7 linked regions of the Homo sapiens genome follow. The protein of the gene in region 1 interacts with the protein of each later gene in a biochemical or structural test. Each region holds a gene or a part of one and is shown on either strand. Other genes may lie near its edges. The genes, in order: ADGRA3, PDZRN4, DLG2, CARD11, DLG5, PARD3B and FRMPD2.

Region 1 (3,500 bases):
TCTATGTTGCTTTTTCCCCACTAAGGAACAAAGAATACAAATTTAAAGATTTTATTCTCCCTACCTCACATCATCAACAAAAAATCAATTCCAGTCAAATTACAGAACTAAATATAAAAGGTAAAACATATTAAAGCTTCTGAAGAGAACAAAAAAGAAGATCTTCATAATCTTGGGGTAGAAAAATTTCTTAAACAGCATTAACTAAAACAACAACAACAACCAAGAAATTGTACTTCAGAAAATTTAAGAAACTCTGTTCATAAAAAGACAATATTGAGGAAAAAAAAAGGCATGAACTGGGAGAAGATGTATGCAACACATAAATCCAACAGGGAGCTCATATTCAGTACCCATATTAAGAAGTCCTATAAATAATTAAGAAAATGAAAGACAACAAAATTAAAAATAGGCAAGACTTGAGCAGGAACGTCAGGAAAAGGGGATATCCAAACTGCCAATAAAAAGCTAAAGAAGTGCTCAACATCAATAGTCACCAGAGAAATGCAAATTAAAACTAGAATGATACATCACAACACTACCACCAGAAGACTAAAACTGAAGATTGACAATTCCAAGCATGGTCAAAATGTAGAGCACCTGGAACTCTCATTACTGTTGAGACTGTAAACCAACATAACCACTTTGGTCAACTGCATGGCTTTAGCTACTTAAAGCTAAACACATGGAAAGCCTACAATCTAGCAATTTCACTCCTGAGTGTACATGTCCATCATAAAACATATACATGAGTACTCACAGCAGCTTTTTCTTGACACCCAAAACCTAGAAACAGAAATGGCTATCAATGATAAAATGAACAAACTTTGGCATATTGATACAATGGACTGCTACACTGCAATGGAAAAGAATAAACTGCTGCTAAATGCAAAAATGAAGATAAATTCCAACCATGTAATGACAGGAAAGAACCTGACACAAGTGTACATACTACACAACTAAAGTCTAAAAACAGGCCAAACCTATCTATAGTGAGAGACATCAAAAGGGTGGTTCCTGGAGATGGTGGCAGGAACTGACTAGAGAGAAACACAGGAGCACTGTCCAGCACTCTACTACAAATCTTGTTCTTATACATTCTTTTGTAAAAATATAACCAATATTTGTGCACTTTGCTCAATACCTCAATTTAAACCAGTTGGTCCCTTTGATTATCAATTCCACTTTGGAGAATTTGTCTCACAGATGCTCAATTAAATGTGCAAAATGACACTGTACAAACCACTAGAAACAAACACAATAGAGAAATATCTAAATAAATTATGGTAGAAACATAATATTCAGAGATAAGAAAGAATGAGGAAACTCGTATATTGAGAGGATTTCAGAAAGGAGACTTAGCAGAGGGATTATTAACACAGATCCCAAAATGAGACTGTGAATTCAAATCCCAATACCAGCACTAGCTTTGTGAGCATGGCATTTAACCTCTCTCTGCCTCAGTTTCCACATCTGTACAGTGGGGGTGATGACAGTACTATTTCTCATGAGGCTGTTATAAGAGCTGAGTAACTGAATGTATATAAAGACATCAGAGGAGTGGCTGACACATAAGTGCTTAATAAAGATTGGCCACCACTACCACCATCACCATCCTCTTCTTTAAGATACATTATCACCATCATAGTTAAGAAATGTTGCTCTACAGAAAAAAGCACGGTTTAGAACAGTGTGTGTAGTATGCAACCTTTGTGCAAAAATGCAAAAAAATAGGAACATATACTCATTTTTGTTTCCATAAACACGAGGGTCTCCTCAACAATACGCGAGAAACAAACAGTAGTTACTTATCAGTGTGATACGAGAGATAGGTAGGACTTCCAGCTTTCACTGTATGTTAATGTGTAGAAATAAATAAAACATTACATCCATGTGAGTATAGTACTTATTTTAAAATTATTTAAACAAAAACATCACTAGCATTTATGTTCAATTATAGAGTAAATGATATCAAAGTTGCTTTGAATACCATTTTAATCTATAAAATGACATATTAAGATGGTATTCAGCATGTTTTATATAAACAAATGTAAAAGAATCACTAGAAAAAGAAAATTAATGAATGCTCTCTAGTTTCATATTTTTAGGTGAACACAACAAAAGAGGAATCAATGTATATAAATTAGCTTATCTTCACCACTAGTGATTAAAGTATTAAGCACTACATAGTTTGAACCTAATCATAACCCTACTTTCTATTCAGTTTTCTTTCTTTGTTTTTTCCTACAGACACCAGCTCCTGTGAATCTTCCTGCCCCACCTGGCTATTCCAGATCATATCATTCAAGCAAACCTAATTTCTGCTTAATTTTTTTTTCTGGCTCCCAATGAGACCTTAGTAAATAACTGGTATAGCAGGATGTATACTCAGATTTATGAACAAGTATATTCTTTATGTCGCATTTTTTAAAAATTCAAAACTCTTAAAATCAGATAAAGGAAAGTTTTATGGACTATATCCCAAGATAGGAATTTAGACTTACTATATAAAAGGATATATTAAGATGGTATTCAAGAGACATAGGATTTTATCAATTTTTAAAAGCTTAATATAAGGAAAAAAGACACTGCTTTCTAATTTGCTTTCTAATTTTTTAAAAACAATTTTTTCAATCCTAAACATAACTTTACCTAAAAGTGGGTATAATTTCATTAACTTTTTCTTTATGTTTAATTAGCAACTAACTCCCATGCAGTAACTTTAATTTTGTCAACAATTTCAAATACATTTCTCTTTGCTGCCTCTAGATGGCACAATTACATTTAAGAAAAGGAAAAAGTCTTTGAAAATAAATAGAAAAAAAATCTTAGTACTACAGTATTTTAACTTTAAAGAATTGTGTATTACATTTTTTTAAGAGATTAAAAGTCTGAAAGATAAAAGAATAGCTTATTCCTTCCAGAAAAGGATTATACTAATTTAATAGTTTTGAAGAACAGCTAGGAAGTTCACAAATAGATGCTTTAAACTGGTATTAGACTAAATAAAAATAAAAGTTTCACATGGTGCAATATCACAGCGAAGGCTTATAAAATGCATTTTTGTGTATGTTTTGTGTTTCATTTATTTTGCTCAATTTTTTCTTGTTAACTTATAAATTTCTGACAATGTTGAATATTATTTCTCATCAGTACATCACAGTTTATTTTATATTCAAAACTGAATGAGAAAACACTTTCAAAATGGAAGAGAAAATGCCACATACTTTAACGCTTCATGCTTTAATTTAAAAGGTGGCAGTGGCTCATGCCTATAATCCCAGCACTTTCCGAGCTTGAGGCAGGCAGATCACTTGAGTCCAGGAGATCAAGACCAGCCTGGGAAACATGGCAAAACCCAGTCTCTACTAAAAATACAAAAATTAGCCGGGTTTGGTGGTGCCTGCCTGTAATCCCAGCTACTCAGGAGGATGAGGTAAGAGAATCACCTGAGCCTGGGAGGTAGAGGCTGCAGTGAGGCGAGATTGCACCACTGCACT
Region 2 (3,500 bases), on another chromosome or scaffold:
GGTGTCATTAAATTTTCATAGAGGTTCCTAACACACCAGAGTCACCATAACATGGACACTGAGTATAATATCTCCAAAGAAGCATTTGCTTGTCTGCCGTGGCTCTGAAGGGACCTGTTACAGTCCATCAGTGAAATAATATGTGTGTTAAAAGTCCCTAAATATGTATTTACAAGATAGTCAGATCTGTTTTGGTCTATTGGGTTAATAATCCATGCACTAAGTCTGTATATAAGTACTCACGAGATACACAGATCAGCTTTGGTTCACTGAGTTAATAGTAAGTAGGTCTTTAAAAAGGCACCTAAATAGCCGCATAGTTTGTATTTTAGCAAGTTCAGAAATGCAGTCTATATACTAGAAGCTATTTCTTTTAAAGTGTGGATGCATTGCTCTTGCTCTGGTGGATGCCAAAAGGTGTGCTTCACTCTAACCTGTAATATTTTGCCATTAAAATGTCAGAAGAAAATTGCCATAGCACAAACTATATTGAAGCTCTGAGGCACAGCCCTCCAGGCTGGGGTGGATGCTGTCCTAGATTATGTCATACATACTCCACCCGCTATCACCGCCCAGGTCCAATACCCCACTCCCTCTCAGCTGACTTTGCTTCCTTCCTGTCAGTCTCAGACCAGCAGCTGGAGTAATCCTGTTATGGCTTTCCTATGTTCCAGCAACTTCCCATCTCAGAGTCAAAGCAACTTCCTATATCATGGTCAAAGCCAAAGGCTCCACAAAACACACCCTCCTTTCTCTGAATTCACCCCTTCCACTCTCTCACTGGTCTCTTTGCTACTCCTTGTACACCCCAGCATGCTTCTGCTTCAGGTCCTTTGCCCCTGCCCTTCCTTCTTTCTGAAAATCTCCTTTCACATGGCTAGATCTCTTATATTCTTTAGTTCTCTTATGAGAGAAGTCTTGCATTACCACTCTGTATAAGACAGCAACATCCTGTCCAACACCACTCTTATTATTTTCCATTAGTACTTCTCACCATTGAAAAGAATATGTCTTTACTTTTATGTTTATTGTTGACCTCCCTCTCCTAGAAGCTCCTTCCACTGGGGCAGGAGCTTCCTAATCCCATGCATAGATAACTGCCTGGTACATTTTAAGTCCTCATTAAATATTTATGGTACAAATGAATGAAAGCAGATGAAAAAGGAGTCTTCTTTCTACTTCCTTGATTGCCTGGTTGTGCTCATGTTTAGGTTGAAGAGGAATGCATATCTCTTTCTGAGCTGAAGTCTTCTTGGCCATTAAACCTCACTTTCCTGTGATATTCTCTCAGTGGCACAAAACTGGTACTTCCTTAAGGTGCTCATCCATCCCGCTCCTAGAGCTATAGGGTTATAAGGAAGCTCCTAGAGGAGCTAGGGTCATCTCAGCTGGTCACAGAAACACCAGATCAGTCTGCTTCTAGGTGTAACAGTAAAAGTGCAACACATAGACAGAATTAGCATTTCTAAATCTCTTCACTGAATGAGCCTAATGGTGTCCACCACAGGCTCCAATGATGGCAGTGGACTGACTAGATTTTGCAGTTTGATGCAGCCACAAGGGATGGCATGTGCCACTCTATGTGTGTGTCACATAATGATAACAGACTGAGGAGTACTGGGCAGAACCATTATTCTCTCTTGAATCTGGTAAATTTCTCTGGAGGTATTCTCCCATGCCTCCACTCCCACCTTTAACCATGCATGTTGTTCTCAAATGCATCCTTTCTAATGATTGAAAACTGTCATAGCAACTCCTTCCTTATTTGAATTTCACAGGAACATTCTTTATTTCAATCACTCAGAAAGGAGCCTTTGGCAACGGAATCACAGCTGACAGCAAATTAATGACTATGATGCTGTGATTAGTTGAGATTACAGGCTACAGAGAGCTTGTCTGAGAATTCACCACTGACATCATCCTGATGCTGGCTTCTGCTGGGGATTAATATTGGTCAAAAAAGAGGTTGTGGTTCAGTTACAGTAAGCTCCATAGAAATGTAAGGAAATCTGTCTGTATTGTAATATTTCAATGACATGCTGATTCATTTAAAGGGCTTTTACTGTTAACTTGCTTAGCCTAAACAATCTTCCCCTATGCCCTCCCCGAGCACACTGACTTATTTTAATAAAGCTTTAAGGCATCCAAATAAAAAGTTGAAGTGATCTACATAATTCCAGTCCCCAAACTGAAAGTATTCATTAACCAAAAGGAAAACATAAGAATCTTGAATTATTTGGATAAGTCATTCAATTTTATAATTTATTTTACATGAATAGACAAAGCAATGGATATTGTAATGCATGTCAGTGCTTGAGTAGATTTAGAAAATAAAACTTTTCAATCAACTTAATAAAGAGGAGGTAAAAATTTAACATGAACAACACAAGAATGACAAAAACCATCTACTCAGTTACCAGTTGTCATTTCACATCCTTCTAAATTTTGGCTGCAAAGAAATAATGATTTCTGTAATCCCCAGGAATGACTTTTGTGGGGAGAAGATTTCAAACAAACGTCCATTTGCTTTAGATGAGCTTCCTTATTTGATTTCAGATCCTCCTAAGGGAAGAGATTTCAGGATTTCCTGGTTGTAAAGTGGAAGAGAACACTTTGCTGAACTTGTATGACATCACCTGAAGCATTAAAAGGGCAGGTGACCATGGGTTCTCTGCCTGTTTACCAAAGCTTCTTTACTTCCTCAATCTATTTTATTTTTAAATGTCAGAGTAGTCTGAAACCTTTCAAAGATATTCAGGCTGCAGAAGCAGAGGAAATATTAGGATACATTCTTTAACTTTTGTGAGAGCTTTTAAATAATCAATGGATGGACTTTTCGAATTGTTATATATCACAGTACAGATATTCTGACATTAAACCATGTGAAGAATAAATATAGTTTAACAACAAAGGGCATGAGGCCATCTCTATTTCTAGGAAGTCTGTGAAATGGCTCTTTAGAGTACAGACCAGAGGCACAAAGAGAGTATTGCATTTCCAAAGAATACAATATAATAAAATTTAGTTTATCAATGAAAATTAGAATATTATACAACAAATGAAAATAGTAAACACAATCTTTGTTTTAAATATATTTTTCAAACTCCACTTGGAAATCCACATATATTATAGAACAGATTTTAAAAATGTAGCTGTTGCAATATTATTTATTAAAAAGCAACAAAATGAGAGCAAATTATATTTAAGCTTATACTATAAAAATATTTTCCAATATACTTAAAACACGAGAGCCACATAGCTAAAGCAAATAGTATTTGAAAGATCTTACACTGGATATGTAATAGACAAGACATTTCTCACTGTAATAAATTAATTTCTTTGTTATACAAAACCCCTCAACCGTAACTTCATGAAGAAATGTGAAGTGGTATGAAAATGACCTTACCTCATATTCAAAGTCTTCTGTTCTGTCTGCATCAGCAGGCAAGCTGGAAATATACTCATTGTCCTCATAAAATTCATGCTCCATTGGATGTAGA
Region 3 (3,336 bases), on another chromosome or scaffold:
AATGAGAGTCTCTTTCCAAAAACAGGCATTGTTCATCTTACGCTAAACATCATTGTCTGCCTGGCTACAGTCACCAAAACAAAACAGAAATGCAAAATTATGCATCTTCCCATAGTCCTGAGGCTTCCTTTGCCAATGGAAGGGCTAGCAATGCATTCTCCCTCTCATGAAAGTTAAATTTCCAGAGACTTCCTTAGATTGCTCAAAATGTTAAAGATATGTCCATGTCTGCAATTCGCCAGTTTCAGGTCAAGGCCTACTTTCATCAATATTGCTCCCAGAAGTTTTCTGACACCAGAATGCCATTCCTGATCCCAGCTCTATTTTTAGGCCACCACGATAACTTCTTTGGTTTCTCAACTGAGCATGCAACCATTTATTTAAAAGACTGTCATTAATGAGTAGATGTTTTCGCGGGTCGTGTGATGTGCTTTCCATTTACTAGTGTTGCTGTGGCTAAGTACAATCAAATTGAACCACCAACCCTTGGTTTTGTAGTAATATAACTATTTATTTTCCTAGTGTAGATGCTTTCAGATTAGAATTGGCATTTGCACTGATTTTTTTATGTAGATTTATATAAATATATAGATACATATATATTTGCTTGAAGAATCACCAAGCAAATTGGTGAGAGGGTCTTTTCCAATAGAATTTACACCTCCATTTGTTGTGTTGTCTTGCACTTCCCAATGTTGATGTCTCTATGGCTCCAATGAACTGGTGTATTTTGCAGCAAATCTGATGACTTGTATGGAAATGGCATGAAAGTTACCCAGATTACATCTGGTGCAAATGCACTCGGAGCCTGGGGCCAGACTGGTGCTAACACTGCAAACTTTGTCCAGAGCTCTCTCCAACCTGAAGGCTTGCTGGGGGTGCAATGTCACCTTCACACATGCTGGGCCCTTTCAGAAAAGTGCCAGATCGTGTAACTGGTGCTATTTTTCATGCTCTGGTACAATGTGTAGCACCACGGGGGTCTCAGCTTTACCAAAATCAAAATTCCATTTGTCAGCTAAGTGCAGAGGCATTTGTTTTTTGCTCTCCTCCCACAGAATTGTCGGCCATTTATTTGCAGGCCTTTTGCGGGATTTCTTGGCTATTTATTTGCAGGCCTTTTTTCCCAGCCCCAAATTCTTGGGTTGGCTCTGTCTGCTTAAAGAGCCTGTCTTCACAAAGCTGCACTCGGGTGCCTCTGTGCGCTGTCTTAGATCCTACTGCCGGCCCTTCAGGACTCCGAGCCAGGAAAGAACTCTCCAACCTCTGGCTCGAGACTCTACTTTTTTTCTCATTCTTTTCCTTACTCTCCTCCTCCTTCTACTTCCGACTAATTCCATCTCTTTTTTTTTTTGTTCCTCTCCTTTTCCTATTCCTCCTTCCCACCATCTCTGAGTTGTTGACTTTCTCCTATAATCCTTCTCTATTCCCTTTCTCTTTTTGTCCACCTCTCCTTTAGTCTCTGTTTCTCTGCCCTTCTTATTCCTCTTCTGTCCTTTCTCCTCTCCTCAAATCTCTGATCATCTTCTCCCGTACATCCCTGTATTGATTTTTCTGTCCTCTAAAGGGCTCATGGCTGATTCAGACAGCAAGTCCATGCACTGGACTAATGACACAAATACTTTAGGTCGCCGTTTCACCTACTCAGCCCAGAAAGTAAAGCTGAGCGTGAGGCCCTGACCTGGAGCCTGCTCCAGCCCGCCTCCCGGAGCCAGCCTGCACCGTTGCCCTGGCAGCGATGATGCATGTGCTGTGGGCCCTGCCGGCGCCTGAGTGCCTCTGCCTGAACACTGCTCCTAAGCGAGCCCACTCCCAGCACTACCGCATGGCTCTGAGGACATTTTCTTTCAATAAAGGCAGACTCTGGCCCCAATTATTCTGATAGCAAACCTCTTCCTCCTCATTGAAGCCATGCCATCACCTTGGTTTGGAGAGAGACATTTTTTTCCCATTCATAAGCTTTCTTTTTCCCATTTTTATGTGAAGCCCCCTCTGCTTTTCAGCTGGTGATTGCTCTGGTGAGACTGAATGGACTTGCTGGTGAAATGAAATCTCTTCTTTCCTGTCTTGGTCCTGCCTAAATTCCTACAAATATATTTAAGCCAAGGACTCAGGCTAATTCCTAAGTTGATCACATTAATTTGTTACTCCTAGAGGGAAAAAGATCAATTCCCTTGAAGCATGTGGAGTACCTCCTGTGACAGCTGACTTGCCAGGGGACTCCCTACAGAATTCTGTGATATACATTTTACTTCTGTGTATGTATGGTATATATGGTATGTATACCATGTACACACGTTACATTGAGTATGAATGACTGTGGTTGGAAACACACACACACACTCAAGTCTGTAAATATCCTTCCTCACTGAAACCTGTGCTTTGGAAATCATTTCTTGTACAGCTGTGCAGTTTCTTGTAACAGCTGAGGACAAAGCTAAGACAGGCGGACAATTTAGACAAAGATCATCTAAAGAGTATAGTATCTCCCTAGCAACTCATGAGGACAGACAACCAAGTGGCAAGGTTGACTCCCAATGGGATGGCAGACTTTTCTTCTCTCCTTTTTGAGTTTGTGTTTCCTAAGTGTTTCTTAACTTCTGAGTGCACCAGGCTGTACCCGTTAGATCCTTTCAATATGACAGTTTTGTGCTTCTCTCTGACAGGATGTTTCTCCACCGAGCTGTAGCACAGGATGGGAGGGAGGTGGGAATACTCCTTGCCTAGGCTGGAGTTTACAGAGACACTGCACAGCTTACACTCCTGTTAAGTGTAAATATTCAACACTTCCATTCCATTTGTGTAAAAAATAAAGCACACACGATTATAAAATCAAGATGTATATTTCATACTCAGTGTGTCTGTGCATATTTATTGCGTTTCTAGTTGTCAGCGGTGGGTGGCCCCATTGTAAAAATGCCTGATAGAGTGTTTATAAACATGTCATGGTTTTATTATAAGATATAAATATTAAAACATTTTATACTTTATGGCAAATGATTTTCTCCCAAAGCATAATTTGTCTTATTTCATAAGGAATAGAATCACTCATGTCTATTTTTATCAATTTTGTCTCTGATTCCAGAGCTAAAATGCAATTAGGGTGGGTATGCCCTGAGAAGTATTGGCACTGCTGAGAGGAAGTGAAAGTGCTGTTTTTGCATATTCTTAAATATTTGGTTACCATCTTGCCTGCTTTTAATCGGGATTTTTCCAAAAGTGAACAATGTATTAAAAGATAGATTTTTAAAGATGCTCACAGCTATGTGAGGGGAAAAATCAATTTCCCAGTGTCAAACTGTGGGATTCCAGAAGATATTAAGGATACAGAAAAAT
Region 4 (3,500 bases), on another chromosome or scaffold:
CAAGAGTTCTTAGTAAATTAAGGAAATAGCTCTTTGCCACATATACTCTGTTTTGCATTTAGCTCATCTCTCTCTGTTCTCCCTCCTGGCCTCTGAATAAGCAAGTCAGAAGTAAAACTTAAAAGCAGAAGCCTGCAGAACCCCTTGACACATTTGGTGCGTTTGGAAACACTTTGGTCTATGCTAATCTAGGGGTGGTATCATTATTATTATTAATTTGTGATAGAGTCTTGCTCTGTTGGCCAGGCTGGAGTACAGTGGCACAATCGTGGCTCACTGCAACCTCTACTTCCCGGGTTCAAGTGATTCTCCCGCCTCAGCTTCCCGAGTAGCTGGGATTACAGGTGCTCACCCCCATGCCTGGCTAATTTTTGTACTTTTAGTAGAGACGGGGTTTTGCCATATCTCAAACTCCTGACCTCAGATGATCTGCCCGCCTCGGCCTCCCAAAGTGCTGGGATTACAGGTGTGACCCACTGTGCCCAGCTAGGGGTGGTAATTTTATACCCATTTTACACGTGCAGCAATTGAGGCTCAAAATCATCATGTGACTTTGTTGGGGTCACCGAGATTGCAGGCAGTGGAGCCGGAATGGGCACCTTGTCTGTCAGGCTCTAAGTCTGTAGATCTCTCCAGAAAGCAGGTTTGCCTTTTTTTTTTTTTTTTTTTGAGACAGGTTCTTACTCTGCTGCCCATGCTGGAGTGCAGTGGTGCAATCACGGCTCCCTGCAGCCTCAACTTCCTGGGCTCTAGCAATCCTCCCACCTCAGCCTCCTGAGTAGCTGGAACCACAGGCGCATACCTCCATACCTGCCTCATTTTTAAATTTTTTGTAGAGATGGGGTCTCGCTATGTTGCCCAGGCTGGTCTCGAACTCCTGAGTTCAAGCAATCCTCCGCTTTGGCCTCCCAAAGTGCTGGAGTGCTGGGATTATAGGCATGAGCCCTCGTGCCTGGCTTTTTATTTTTTTTTAATCTTGCCTCTTAAGGAATGAGGCCAGTCCCAGGGGACGGCAGAAATCATAACCAGCATTGTCCTGGCAGGTGTTGCCTTTGATACCACCATGACCGAGGACATGGCATGGGGCAGCCCCCATTCTGCTGCTGTGATACTTGGGTATAAAGACAGCAAATTCCTCAGTTGCAGAGGGGCAGGAAGGAAGATGACATGCTAGACACAGAAACCACACAAAGGAGGATGGAGCCCTGTTTGTGAGCATGGATACTACACATGCCCCTCTCTGGCTCTCACACTTGCAAGAATAATGCCCACTAAGGAATGGCCCCGGCTGGGCCAGGAGGAACCCAGCACTTTGGAGGAATGACTGTGCTTGGAGTAGCAGGACAGGGGAAGAAGAAGTGACAGCCACACAGATGGGACTGGAAGGACTTTTATCACCCTCTGGCTCTCGGCCACCAACACCTATTACAGAAATGTGACAGCAACCATTATAATCTCTGAGCCCTTGAACAAATCACAACCCAAAAGGTTACCCTCCCGAAAATAATCACCCCATTAAAACCACTGACCCAGAGAGCGGCAGTCCCTCAAGGAGAGAACGCAGACAAGGCATGGGGCGTGTTCTTTGTATGGAGCGTGCAGTGCCCTGGCCGTGATTTTCTTATGTGGCCTGCCACAGGAAGAGGCTGGCATCTGGAATCTGTGCCTTCTAATTTTTATTCTTTTCTTTTTTTTTTTTTTTTTGAGTCGGAGTCTCGCTCTGTTGCCCAGGCTGGAGTGCAGTGGCACGATCTCGGCTCGCTGCAAACTCCGCCTCCGTGGTTCAAGCAATACCCCTGCCTCAGCCTCCCGAATAGCTAGGATTACAGGCGCCCGCCACCACCCTGGCATAATTTTTTTTGTATTTTTAGTAGAGACAGAGTTTCACCATGTTGGCCAGGCTGGTCTCGAACTCCTGAACACAGGCAATCTGCCCACCTCGGCCTCCCAAAGTGCTGGGATTACAGGCGTGAGCCACCACGCCCAGCTGCCTTCTAATTTTTCTTTGGCAGAAGAGCATGTTTAAGGGGCTCCCTCGAAGGTTCTCTTTTCCTTCTCTTTTTGTTTCTGTATTTCAATCAATCGATCAAAATATTTCCTTTCTTTTTTTCGTTTTTTTTTGTTTGAGACAGGGTCTCGCTCTGTCGCCCAAGTTGGAGCGCAGTGGTGTGATCTCGGCTCACTGCAACTTCTGCATCCCAGACCCAAATGATCCTCCTGCCTCAGCTTCCCAAGTAAGGAGAGACCCCTATGCCTGGCTAATTTTTTAGTATTTTTTTTGTAGAGACATGGTCTCATCACGTTGCCCAGGCTGGCTGGTCTGGAACTCCTGGACTCAAGCGATCCTCCTCCTTGGCCTCCCGAAGTGCTGGGATTACAGCCATGAGCCACCGTGCCCAGCCAATCAAGCTATTTTCTAGACTGATTGGGTACTGCCACCACCAAGAGTGAGGGTTTTTCTACAGGGTAGATTGACGGAGCATCAGCTCGGTCTGTGATTTCCTTGGGCCTCATAATTCCCCCGTAAGATTGAGATTGCAGATAAGGAATCTGAGGTTGCACCAGAAAAAAGTAACGAGGTCCATCCAGCTGGTGTTTGCGGGGATACCGGCACTGCAGCCCTGGGTCTGGACTCCAGGGTCCAACCTCTGATCTGCTCCAGACCTTAGTCATCACGGCAAAGGTAGTCCTAGCTCATATGCCGCATTTTCTCATTTTATGCTTGGTGTAACTGACAATACTGAAAATAACCAGTATTGATATCCTGATTTCATTAGAGAAATGACTCTCAGAGAGCTTAGGTGACGGGAAGCCTGTCTAAGGTCACACGGCTAGCACAGATCAGTAGTCATGCCTCAAACCCATGCCTTCATGGGCTCCAACCCAAAAGACGGAATGCTGCTGGAGGCGCTGCCTGCAAAGCAGATAGTGCAGGGCCTGGCCAAGAGGGAATGGAAAGTGTTTTTTTGTTTTTTTTGTTTTTTTTTTTTTTTTCCTTTTTTGGAGACAGAGTCTCACTCTGTTGCCCAGGCTAGAGTGCAGTGGGGCAATCTCAGCTCACTGCAACCTCTGCCTCCTAGGTTCATGCGATTCTCCTGCCTCAGCATCCCGAGTAGCTGGAATTACAGGCGCCTGCCCAATTTTTGTATTTTTAGTAGAGATGGGGTTTCACCATGGTGCCCAGGCTGGTCTCAGACTCCTGACCTCAAGCGATCCGCCTGCCTCCGCCTCCCAAAGTGCTGGGATTACAGGTGTGAGCCACCGTGCCTAAAGGCGGTTTTTAAAATGGATTCGAAGAGGCTCCATTTTTCAGCATTTGACACGCCTTTTCATCATCATCATCTGAAAATCGGGACCCTATTTGGCCTTTCATGCCCGACATGCTATGAGGAGCTACAATCACAAGTGCGTCTTCAACTCCACGGCCTCTGCCAGCCACCACCAAGCCACAGTCACACAGCCCCTCAGTCCCAGGAAGCAAGCCTTTTATCGGAAGGGTC
Region 5 (3,500 bases), on another chromosome or scaffold:
ATGAACACAGGACTGAGGCCAGAAATGCCGAAGTTCTGCAGAAACCGACAGCTCTTGGTCACTACCAAGCAGCCTGTAAGAACCTAAAAACAAATGGCAAGCAAGGCACTCAGCAGAGATTGCTTCTTGCCTACCCAATAGCTATCCCTCCATTCTTCCTCAGTAACTGAACCTCTTACTGAGGCCAGCAATGCACCCAGCTAAAACATGCCTTTTCTTTTTAATTATTTTTTGAGACAGGATCTTGCTCTGTCACCCAGGCTGGAGTACGGTGGCGTGATCTTGGCTCACTGCACCTCCGCCTCCTGGGTTCAAGGGATTCTCCTGCCTCAGCCTCCCAAGTAGCTGGGATTACAGGTGCATGCCACCACACCTGGCTAATTTTTGTATTTTTAATAGAGACAGGGTTTCACCATGTTGGCCAGGCTGGTCTTGAACTCCTGACCTCAGGTGATCCACCCACCTCAGCCTCCCAAAGTGCTGGGATTAAACGTGTGAGCCACTGTGCCTGGCCAAAACATGCCTTTTTGACCTCTCTTGCACATGCAAGTGGACAATGAGATGCAAGTTGAAGTCACAGGTTAGGGCTTCCAGATAGCTGCTGAAAGAGGCACGCTCAGCTGAGGCACACTTCTGCCTTACCACTCCTTCCTTCCTCCTGCTGCCTGAAACAGGGACATGATGGCTGCAGCTGCATTGACAGGCGGTGACTGGGAGGATGGAAGCCACACCCCATAGATGTGGCTCTGAAGATGGCAGCACCCCCCGACCAAGCCGAACACACACCTTCAGACTTGCGCACAAAAGCAAAGTAAGACTCTCTTTTGTTTAAGTCCCTGTTGTGGAGCTCCTGGATCCACAGCAAGCCCCATCTGGAGAGCCCACTGGAAAATGAGCTCAGCCACTTGCCTTCAAAGAGTGGAATGGAGTCACTGGAAAAGGCATCCAAGGCGAGCAGGTCTTTCCCGTCCTTGGACCCGCTGCGTTTGTGCTTGTGTTTCCTCCGAAAAAAGGACCGGCGTGCAGCCGCTGACAGCGTCTTTGTGGCGCTATTGTCATCTTTGACTTCAGACATGCTGAGCCTCCTGGAGAATTCTTGGTCCATCCTGTGGCACAGGGGACAATGCTGGGCAGGGCCATCGAGACCCTGCTGCCCTGCCCTTCCTGCCCTTCCTGGTGAGAAAAGCAAAGGTGGGCCAGACACTGGGCTCCCCCCACACTCCTTGGCAGGTCTCAAGGCTACATCTCCTCCCACGCCCCTGGGAACCCTCGGTACATGCTGCGGGGGTGACACAAACACCAGCACCAGGGCAAGCTCTCAGAGCAGGCGATTTTTTCTACTACAGCATATTCAGCTCGGTGTCAAAAGGAACTGCTAGGACAGCCTTCAATTGGTGACATGACGAGTTACGCTTCCTGCCATAGAAGGGAAATGATGCAGGGATGCAGGCTGCCTCGAAAACATGCTCAGTGACAGGAGCCAGATGAAAGGCCACACTATGCAATCCCAACCACACAGAAGTCCAGACAGGGAGACCCATGGGTATCAAAAGTAAAGTAGTGGCTGCCTAGGGCTGAGGGCTGGGTGGGAGGACAGTGGGATAAGGGGCTGACAGCTAATGGGTCTGGGGTTTGTTTGAGGTGATGGAAATGCTCTAAAATTAACTGTAGTGGCGGCTGCACACACCTATCAATATGTTGAAAACCACTGAATGGTACACTTTGAGGGAGCGGCAAGGCACGAGTATCTCCATAAATCCATTTTTCTAAAACACGTTATGCCTTCTGACCCATCACTGTGCTCTATACAGCACTGACTCACACTAGGAGCAGCTTTTTAGACCAGCACTTTTGGCAAAATGTAGAGAGCAGAAGCTAAGATAAGAAGCAGAATCCCTCCTCCAGCAGCCCTGGCCCCAGCCCCCTCCCATGGGACAGCTCCATGGCTGGTGGCCCTCGGCGACCCCTGCCCCACCCCACCCCAGGCCCGGAGAACACTTACACATATTTGCTGGGAATCTGCCCGCGCTGGATCTTCTGGGCATTCTCGTCCAGCTGCCAAGCCATCCAGGACCCGAACGTGCCCTGGGGTAAGGTGTCATCCACGTAGAGGATGTCGTCCTTCTTAAAGCTCAACTCTTGCTCCACATCTGCCAGCCGGTCGTACAGGGCCCTGGACCACAGCACAGAAGGAACACGATCAGGCGGCTCTGGCCACCAAGGACGAACCAGGTGCCTTCTGTGGCCAGGCCCCTAAGGCTGCCATTCTGCTTTGGGCTGTCTCCAAACTTGATCAGGAATCGCCGAGGGTGGTGATTCTCAAAGTGGGGAGCCCTGTGTTTTACATAAAGGGGCAAAGACTGCCTTTGCTCCCCTAACACTGAGGGCGCATCCCCATCAAAGAACTCACCAAGATCTGAGGCCATAACTTCCCTTTCCAGGTGGCCTTTCCCAGTTGCCTCCCTCCTCGAAGCCCAGGCCCGGCCCCTGGTTCCTACAGACTGGAATCTCTCTAGGATGGAAATATGTCATCTTCTACCCTAGAGACAGGGAGTTGTACCGCATCAGTGTTCTCATGCTTTCTGTGATCTTGGATCTTAGGAAATGTGAAGAAAGCTCTGAGCTCCTCCTAGAAAGCCTGCTGCCATCCCTAAATGCCCACAGCATTTCATACAGTAGTAAGGGCACTGAAGATGCCTGGAAGTCCACACACACTGCAGAGGGATCTGCAAACCTGGCTTGGGGGACACCAGAAAAAGAGGAGCACAGCACACAGGAAAACGGGGCTTGACTGCCTCCAAATTCTCTAGGTCTTAAGCCCTAAAGAGGGGGCCCAGCTGGTTCTTTAAGCCCTAAAGGGTTGTTCTAAGTCACAATCATCTCAACATAAATAAGCGTGCAGATTGAGTGTCAAGGAATGATGATCATGGCCCCAGCCTTGGGGGGCAAGAAACAGAGAGCCATTCACCAGGAAAAGAGTCTCCAGTGAAAGCCTCTCCTCTGGTTCCAAATCTCCCACCGATTCCCCAGCCACTGGTACCTGATGTAGAAGCTGTCACCAGGCAGGCCCTTGGCCTTCGTGAACTCCTCAGGGCGGTACTGCACCTTCAGGCGGACGCCATCCCTGGGCTTCAGCATCTCCACATAGACTTCCTCCACTGTCTTGTTCCGCACGTCCAGGCTGCCATACTGCCAGGGATGGGGGTGGATGCATCAGAAGGCAGAAGCCAGGGGGCAGCTTGGGCACCCGAGAGGGGCCAGTGCTGACCATACGGCAGAAATTCAACATCCCTCCTTAACTGAGACTCTGGCTACCTCCCCTCTGCAGGAAGGACTGAGTCTTCATGGTCTCCCCAGTCTCCAGGTCCTGTGCATGCTCCCTGGACACCAGGTCCTCTGCCAAGTGGCTGCCCTGCCCTTGACAGCTTATCCAGGAAAAACCCTGTTCTGGTGACTGGCAAGTCTGGGCTTTTCAGAATAGGGACCTTCCTCTTGCTGAT
Region 6 (3,500 bases), on another chromosome or scaffold:
TTTTCTCTCTGATTAGCAGTCATGCGTTACAATGTCAGTGAGAAAAAGCTTATCAGTAACATGGAGAATTCCTAACACCAAGGAGGTCTTCAGGTTTAGAAAGGGCAAAGGTAGAGTAGACACCTTCCTTTCTGGACCGGGCTGGCCTCGGTGGCACTCAGCTATACGGCTGCAGTCATGGGGTTCTTCTGCCGGGAATCCTGGGTTCGGTAAGGGTACTGGTCTGGGCTGCCCCCACGGGGCCCTGGTCTGCCTGTTTCCTGATAGGCTGGCATTCTTTGGTGCTGGGGAGGGGAAGGCGGAACGTCTTGTCGAAAGGGTCCTTTGTGCTGGGGAGCTGGCGGGGGTGGGTAGTGCTGAGGATACCGGAGATCTGCCACCCTGAGCTCTGTGGGGCGGGGATAGCTCCCTTTGGGAGGGTGCATAGGATGAGCCCCTGGATAATAGGGAAGCTCCCTTTCCTTGTAGAGCCCCCGAGGTGCTGCTGGCAGATAGTCTACAGGATCTGCGGGTCCTCCCCTGGAAAGAGAAGAAGAGACACATGTTAGCAGCTCCTAAGCTGGCCGTCCGGCTGGAGAACATGTTCCTCAGCCTCCTGTGCAGTTTGGTGTGGCCACCGCATAGGTCTGGCCAATGGGATGGGAGCAGAAGTGATACGTGCCCTTAAAAAGAAGAGAAGGGAACTTCTTCCCTTCTCTCCTTCCTGTTGGCCAGCAGAAAAACCATCTTAGGCCACAAGGTGAAAACCACGTGCTATGGGAGGCAGAGCAACAAGAAGGTGAGAGCCTGGGTCCCCGTTGCCATGGAGCCACCATGTCAATCAGGATTGCTTCCATTCACATTGGTGCATGAGAGGAAAATACACTTCAATCTGGTTTATACCCTTTTCTGTTGGCCTTTATTATAGTAACCAAACTAGTTTCCTAAACAAGGCAGTGAGTTTGCCTCTCTTAAGGATGGGGTCATTAGTTCCCTCCCCTTTTCTACCACCATATCCAGGACAGGCTGGGCTGAAGTCTGTCCTAGGCATGGTGATAGAAATGTTCAGGTTATTTGGAGTCATAAAGTTTCCATGGACTGCACTCGCTTTTCTAAATCTGTGAGGTGCTCTTTTAAACGGGCTGTCATCTTGGTCTAACTCTGGTTGGCTGCTGTTACATCTTGGTGTGGATTCATATGTCCCTCCCCTCCCTAAATGCTCTACAGTCCTTAGAAAAAGTCCCAAGCCAGAGCACCTAGAGCTCTTTTTTTTTTTTTAATTTTTTTTTTGAGAGGGAGTCTCATTCTGTCACCCAGGCTGGAGTGCAATGGTGCGATCTCAGCTCACTGCAACCTCTGCCTCCTGGGTTCAAGCGATTCTCCCACCTCAGCCTACCGAGTAGATGGAACTACAGGTGCCCACCACTACACCTGACTAAGTTTTGTATTTTTTTTTGTAGAGATGGGTTTCATTATGTTGGCCAGGCTGGTCTCAATCTCCTGACCTTAGGTGATCTGCCTGGCTCGGCATCCCAAAGTACTGAGATTACAGGCGTGAGCCACTGCACCCAGCCCACACCTAAAGCTTTGATATAAAGTAATCAACTCTACCACAAAGCCAGGAAGTAGCACCAGTCCAGTAGCAGAATAGGGAAATGCCAAACCAGCTGTAAGTTGTACCTTGTAATGGGTAAGGCACACAGAAACATCCAGGGTAAGAATAGACACTAACAGAAAGTGGCCCTGTCTGGATCTCTCACTAAAGAAAACAAGCATCTTCTGATCCGTTTGCCATAACAGAAGCAGTGTGCCTCTAAACAATGTGCAGATGACTGCATTTTATCTAGCCTGGGGTTAAACAGATGAGTTCTGTTTGCAGCTCTTAAAATCTCATAAACCTTCTGTGCACACATTCACCACCACCACCATCCCCAGATCCTTCCCATTTTTTTGCCACTCCCCCTTTTATAATTTTTAAAAAAGAAAAACAACAACAATAATTAAGGGAAAGCTCCCCAATGTCAGACACACTGCTAGGACACTTGAAAGAAATGACAGGGCTGTGAGAATACAGTGTCTGTGGTTAATCAAGCACTGTCAATGAGGGTCAGAATCACCCTGTAATCTGTGGAGGTGGATGTTAAAACAGCTCTGTAAGTTGCTCAAATCAATGAAGATTTGACAAGCTCCCAGCTCGGTGCATGTAGAAAGCAGCTTGTGAACAAATCTATAAGGATGAACAATAGAATTCTCTCTACTTTTTTGTCTTAATTTGGCTATGTATAATAATGAAAGATCCTTGAGCTTGGGGTAATTTAGTTAGAGTTTTCAGATAAAAAATTAAATTGTTTGTGTACAAGTTATTATAGCATCAGCTGCTATTATTCAGTGCAGTTTGCTTTGCTGTATTTTAAATCGCCCATGACAAATGGAGCACAAATGGATAATCTGTCACTCTAGCCATGGGAAATAAAGGCTCTGGATTTCACCTTTCCCTTTCTTTAGAATTTCATTTTTGATTTAGAAAACTTCCAGCCTTCGGTATATCTTTTATCATAAGAATTCTTTAAGTCTCTCTCCTCCACCTCACCATGCTCATTTTCATTTCCTTTTGGTTCATGTTGGAGATATCCGATACACTCAAAAAATTTTTCTTAACCTGTACTTTCTCTCAAAATCCACTGAAGATATTTCTCTGCATGAAGTGAAACATGTGGTTTTTCTGCACTCATTTTAAGCCCTTAGGATAAATCACTGACATTTGCAACACACAAACATTATTTGCCTTCAAATGAACATACAACCAGCCCTCCCTCCGGACTCTCTTAGCATGAATGCTTCCTGTTTAAAATGGAAAGAGAGAAAGGAAGAATTCCAGGCCTTGGACTTTTAGGGTCCTGTTCTCTCCCTGGAGATTTCTCTCTCTTAAAACAGAGCATTATAAAAGACAGGCACGCCTTGTTTTTTTAAATTTTTGGAGAGAGAATCCAGATCAAGTGGTGACAGGGCAGAAGCCACCCTGAGAGGTTGTGACAGTACAGTCGGCGAGCACATGGGGGGACAGTCGCTATCTCTTCTCCCACACCTTGCTCCTCCCAGGCAGCCAGTGCTCACAGCTCACAGTGAGGGGGAGGCTTCCCGTGGGCAGATAGGGCAGACCTCAAGATACTTTTGTGGTCCCATATTGCTTCCTCTGAGGGGAGGTTTTATGTCTGGGAGTTTGCTTGTATGTGGCAGAAAGCAAGAGAGGTAGCTGTTCTTTGTCAAGAAATGAAGTCATGGAAATTGTCTTTTTCTGTGGAACTCATCATAACAGTTAGCATTTTTAATTTTTCAGAGAGAAGAAAAACAATGAGTTGGCCTACTAAAACACTGTTTAAGGTTCAAAGAGTGCTAGAAGAATTTTTCTTTATTTTGGGGGATGGTGTGTAGCTGTTGTTTATAACAACATTTTGTTCATAACAGAATTTCCTACAGACTTTTGTCAGAACAACTTCTAAGTTCTTCTGACTATTATGTGT
Region 7 (3,500 bases), on another chromosome or scaffold:
ACCTGTGTTCCCAGGAAAGTCTTATTTGGGGACACAACACAGTTATTTATATCAAATGAAAACTTTAAAAATGAGTTCTAACTGTCCAAGTTGAGAAAATCCAAATTGAAACAAACAACAAGAAAAGAAAAACTTGATTTTTTTTTCAGTTATTGTTCTGGGTGTGTTAAAAGAGTGGTTTTTGGAATAATCTTCAAATCTACTGTTCTCTACTTTTCAACTAAATCTGAGCTTTTTTTAAAAAAATTAATGTTATTGTTTGTTGTCTCTAAAACAAAGTGCACTTTGCCATTAGGCTTTATCTTCCCTTGTAACCCTCCCTCCAACCCTCTGTAACTGTCATTTCTGTTTTCTACATGAGGAAACAGATTCAGAGAGGCTAAGGAATTTCACCAAGGTCACACAGCTAGTAAGTCATGATGCCATTCATGCTCTGAGATGCCTGATTTAAGAAAGCCGTGATCTTGGCTTCTGCCCATACCCTCTACCATGCTGCTTGATTAGTTTCAGAAAGAAGCACGGAGACCCAGAGCTCACCAGAGCCCCATTGGAGCACCTTGACACACAGTCACTGCAGCCTCCTTGTTAACCGGTAAGCAGCAAGGCCTAAAGGGTGCTGTGAACTTGATGTGAGACATAGGTGTGGGGGCTATGGTACCTTATTTCTTTACTGATTATTAGTAAGAAGCCTCTTGCTCCTCCAGAAAATGCCAATGCTATTCCATTAACAGATGAAGAAGCCACATTTAAGCAGATCCGAAGCCAAGATAATGAGGGGCCTGGTGGCAGCTGTGCTGTCAGGGCATCCTGTTTCCTCTGGGAACCATACTCAGGCCGAGTGGCGGAGCAACAACATGCCTCAATATTGTTGCCATTATCCATTGCCATACCATGCTGCATAACAAGCAACCACAAAACACAGTGGCTAAAAGCAACAATTATGAATTTAGCTCATGATTCTGTGAGTTGGTCATTTAGGCTGTGCTCAGCTGGGAGGTCTTCTAGACTCTGCTGAAAGCCTTCCTGCCTTTTTGACTGTCTTCGGCTCGGCTATCCAGCTTCTCCTGCGGGGTGAATGGCCATTGTCTGGGAAGCTCTGGCTCTCCTCCACCAGCAGGTCAGCCTAGGATTGTTCTCGTGACAATGGCAGAACTGACAGAGAGGAACTGAGAGAGAGAGAGAGAGACAGAGAGACAGAGAGAAAGAGGAGAGAGAGGAGAGAGGACGGCAAGGTGCATAAAGCCTTCAGAACTGGTCTTCCATCATTTCCACTTCATTCTGTTGGCCATATCAGGCCTAAAGGCCAGCCCCATTTCAAGGAGTAAGAAATAGACTCCATCTCTTGATGGCAGGAGGCTGCAAAGTCGGATTGCAAAGGGTGCAGATCAGGGAGAAGAACTGTGGACATTTTTGCAATTGTCTAACTTAGGATGCTTGAATCAGATCAAAACCTAGATGGGCTCATATCTTCCTGGACCTGGAACGGTGTTTATTTTGAAGTTTGGGTGATTTATTTATTCACATGGTGACCTGTTGAGGGCTGTAACAGTGTCTTGTCATAGTTGATGTCAAATCCACAGCTGACGCCCTGATTGGATATCGTAGAGTTTATCTTGCAATACTTTTTCCTGCCATTTAAAACTTTATTTTCCCAATGAAAACAATTTTTACCCCCTGATTCCTTAAACAATATATTTTATTGTCAAAATATTTTGAACAACATATCAAATTCTAAAGAAGCCAGAACTGCTGCAGTCCCATGACCTGCTGGGTGGTTGCTCTAGACCTGGGGTCCTGGCACCACAAACAGAGAGGTAAAGCCATGGGGTGGAGAAGTCGACTGTGCCTTGTACCTCCAACCCCACCCCACCCCAGTGGCTGTGCAGCCTGGCTTCTCCAGGCCTCAGCTTCCCCCACTTGAAAAATGGATATAACTCCCCCATAGGTGGGGGAGAAGGTGACATGCATCAGTGGGTGCACCCTGCCCAACTGAGCCCCTGTGCGGGTGGTCTTTCATGCCATGGAAGCCCTTGCCATTGCTAAGTGCTTCACCCCTTCTCAACCCCTGGCCAGCGCTCTTCCAGGAGCAGATCCCCAGGACCAGCAGGCGGGCCGGAGGCTCAGCTCTGGATCTGTGCACTCGGCAGCAGACAGCTCATGGCCAACAACTCCTTCTCAGAGGGGTTTTCTGCAAAGAAGGAGCAAGGTAAGCAAAATAAGGCTGAAGGACACTCCTCAAGGAGGCTTGAGCAGGGAGCTGTGGGTGGCTGGCACGGTGGCTGAAAATGGGCAGGGTCTTCTAGGGGACAACTTCCCTGGGCTGAGGTTTATAGGATTGGACTAACATAAACCTGAAATTTGCAACTTAGGGCATAGGCATTCACTGAGTAGCCTCACTGGGGAAGGCTCTATGGGGGACGCTGTATAAGATGTAGGGTTAAAGATGCTGGGTCCCACCCTAGAGGAAGCCACCGGTGCGCAGGGTGGTGGCAGAGCGTGCTACATGATTCGAGAACTGACAAGGCAGAATGTGTTTGGAAGGGGCCTTCTGCACAGGTGAAAGGTGGGAGCATAGATCCAGGGCCGCAGGGAGGGCTTCTATAGGGAGGAGAGAGTTATCCTTCCAGCTGGCTAACCCTAAGAGGGTAATAGGGTTAGGCGGAATGTGCCTGTCTGTCTGTCAAAGTTAGTTAAGGTCCCTTGACTGAGCTGAGCTCCAAATAGCCTCAGGATGTCCCTCTTCCTGTTTGGCCTATGGTTCCCATACGCTGGCCTGGCCCGCACTGTCCTCCTTGGCCCTTCTCTGGCCTCCATGAACTTGGTGGAGGGCGTGAAGAGGGCTTCTGAGAGGCTTTGTCCACCTCCTTTGGCTTTTCTTCCTGATCACTCACTAGAGATACTTCTATTGGGAACTCTTGCAGGACACAAGTCACTTCTGGGCTGGAATTTTGGCCTCTTGGGACAAGAGTCCTGCTAGGTACCCTTGGGGGCACTATAGAAGCCCTACCCAACCCTATCTCTTGCTGGTTATATGACTCAGGTGAGCTTCTTAAGCTTTTTTTTTTTTTTTTAAAGGTGAGGAGCCTCAACTTCCTCACCTGTAAAATGGGTTGAGAATATGCACCCCACAGGGGGATAGCTGGGTCTAGCTAGTGATGGGTATTGCAGTGTTTTCTGGGTCAAGTGTAATACAAACACACTGAGAACAAGAGGTGCCCACTAAGCTATTGATTCAACATCTAGAGCTAGAAAACATTTCAGCTCATCTAAATCTAAAAGTATTTTTGTTTTTTCAAGTATTTTTATTGCATTTATATTTATATTATACATTTTATACTTTTGATACATACAAAAGATGGAGTTCTGTGTAAATTATGAAACTTATAATTCACCCCGAACACCCCTGTACCCAACTTAAGAGCCAGAATGTTGCTGATACCCTATACCCACCTGTAAGACTTCTGCTCCAAGATGTACCATTCAGCTGGGGCCTCAGCCCA

The links.
Region 2: the proteins of ADGRA3 (region 1) and PDZRN4 interact in a test that uses a peptide from one of them, tested with the Homo sapiens proteins (one large-scale study listed by IntAct).
Region 3: the proteins of ADGRA3 (region 1) and DLG2 interact in a test that uses a peptide from one of them, tested with the Homo sapiens proteins (one large-scale study listed by IntAct).
Region 4: the proteins of ADGRA3 (region 1) and CARD11 interact in a test that uses a peptide from one of them, tested with the Homo sapiens proteins (one large-scale study listed by IntAct).
Region 5: the proteins of ADGRA3 (region 1) and DLG5 interact in a test that uses a peptide from one of them, tested with the Homo sapiens proteins (one large-scale study listed by IntAct).
Region 6: the proteins of ADGRA3 (region 1) and PARD3B interact in a test that uses a peptide from one of them, tested with the Homo sapiens proteins (one large-scale study listed by IntAct).
Region 7: the proteins of ADGRA3 (region 1) and FRMPD2 interact in a test that uses a peptide from one of them, tested with the Homo sapiens proteins (one large-scale study listed by IntAct).

What each region holds. Positions count from the first base shown.
Region 1 is NC_000004.12:22,408,067-22,411,566, forward strand, and holds part of ADGRA3 (adhesion G protein-coupled receptor A3 precursor), read right to left. Parts: intron 1-3,500. UniProt on the Homo sapiens protein: Orphan receptor that may have a role in planar cell polarity pathway.
Region 2 is NC_000012.12:41,509,820-41,513,319, reverse strand, and holds part of PDZRN4 (PDZ domain-containing RING finger protein 4), read right to left. Parts: coding exon 3,407-3,500; intron 1-3,406.
Region 3 is NC_000011.10:83,454,673-83,458,008, reverse strand, and holds the end of DLG2 (disks large homolog 2), read left to right. Parts: 3' UTR 1-2,836; downstream 2,837-3,336. UniProt on the Homo sapiens protein: Required for perception of chronic pain through NMDA receptor signaling. Regulates surface expression of NMDA receptors in dorsal horn neurons of the spinal cord.
Region 4 is NC_000007.14:3,037,368-3,040,867, forward strand, and holds part of CARD11 (caspase recruitment domain-containing protein 11), read right to left. Parts: intron 1-3,500. UniProt on the Homo sapiens protein: Adapter protein that plays a key role in adaptive immune response by transducing the activation of NF-kappa-B downstream of T-cell receptor (TCR) and B-cell receptor (BCR) engagement.
Region 5 is NC_000010.11:77,804,756-77,808,255, forward strand, and holds part of DLG5 (disks large homolog 5), read right to left. Parts: intron 3,190-3,500; coding exon 3,041-3,189; intron 2,174-3,040; coding exon 2,003-2,173; intron 1,417-2,002; coding exon of another isoform or gene 1,341-1,416; exon of another isoform or gene 1,144-1,340; intron 1,107-1,143; coding exon 910-1,106; intron 1-909. UniProt on the Homo sapiens protein: Acts as a regulator of the Hippo signaling pathway.
Region 6 is NC_000002.12:205,612,475-205,615,974, reverse strand, and holds part of PARD3B (partitioning defective 3 homolog B), read right to left. Parts: intron 520-3,500; coding exon 162-519; 3' UTR 1-161. UniProt on the Homo sapiens protein: Putative adapter protein involved in asymmetrical cell division and cell polarization processes. May play a role in the formation of epithelial tight junctions.
Region 7 is NC_000010.11:48,236,697-48,240,196, reverse strand, and holds part of FRMPD2 (FERM and PDZ domain-containing protein 2), read left to right. Parts: intron 1-504; coding exon 505-592; intron 593-2,073; coding exon 2,074-2,206; intron 2,207-3,500.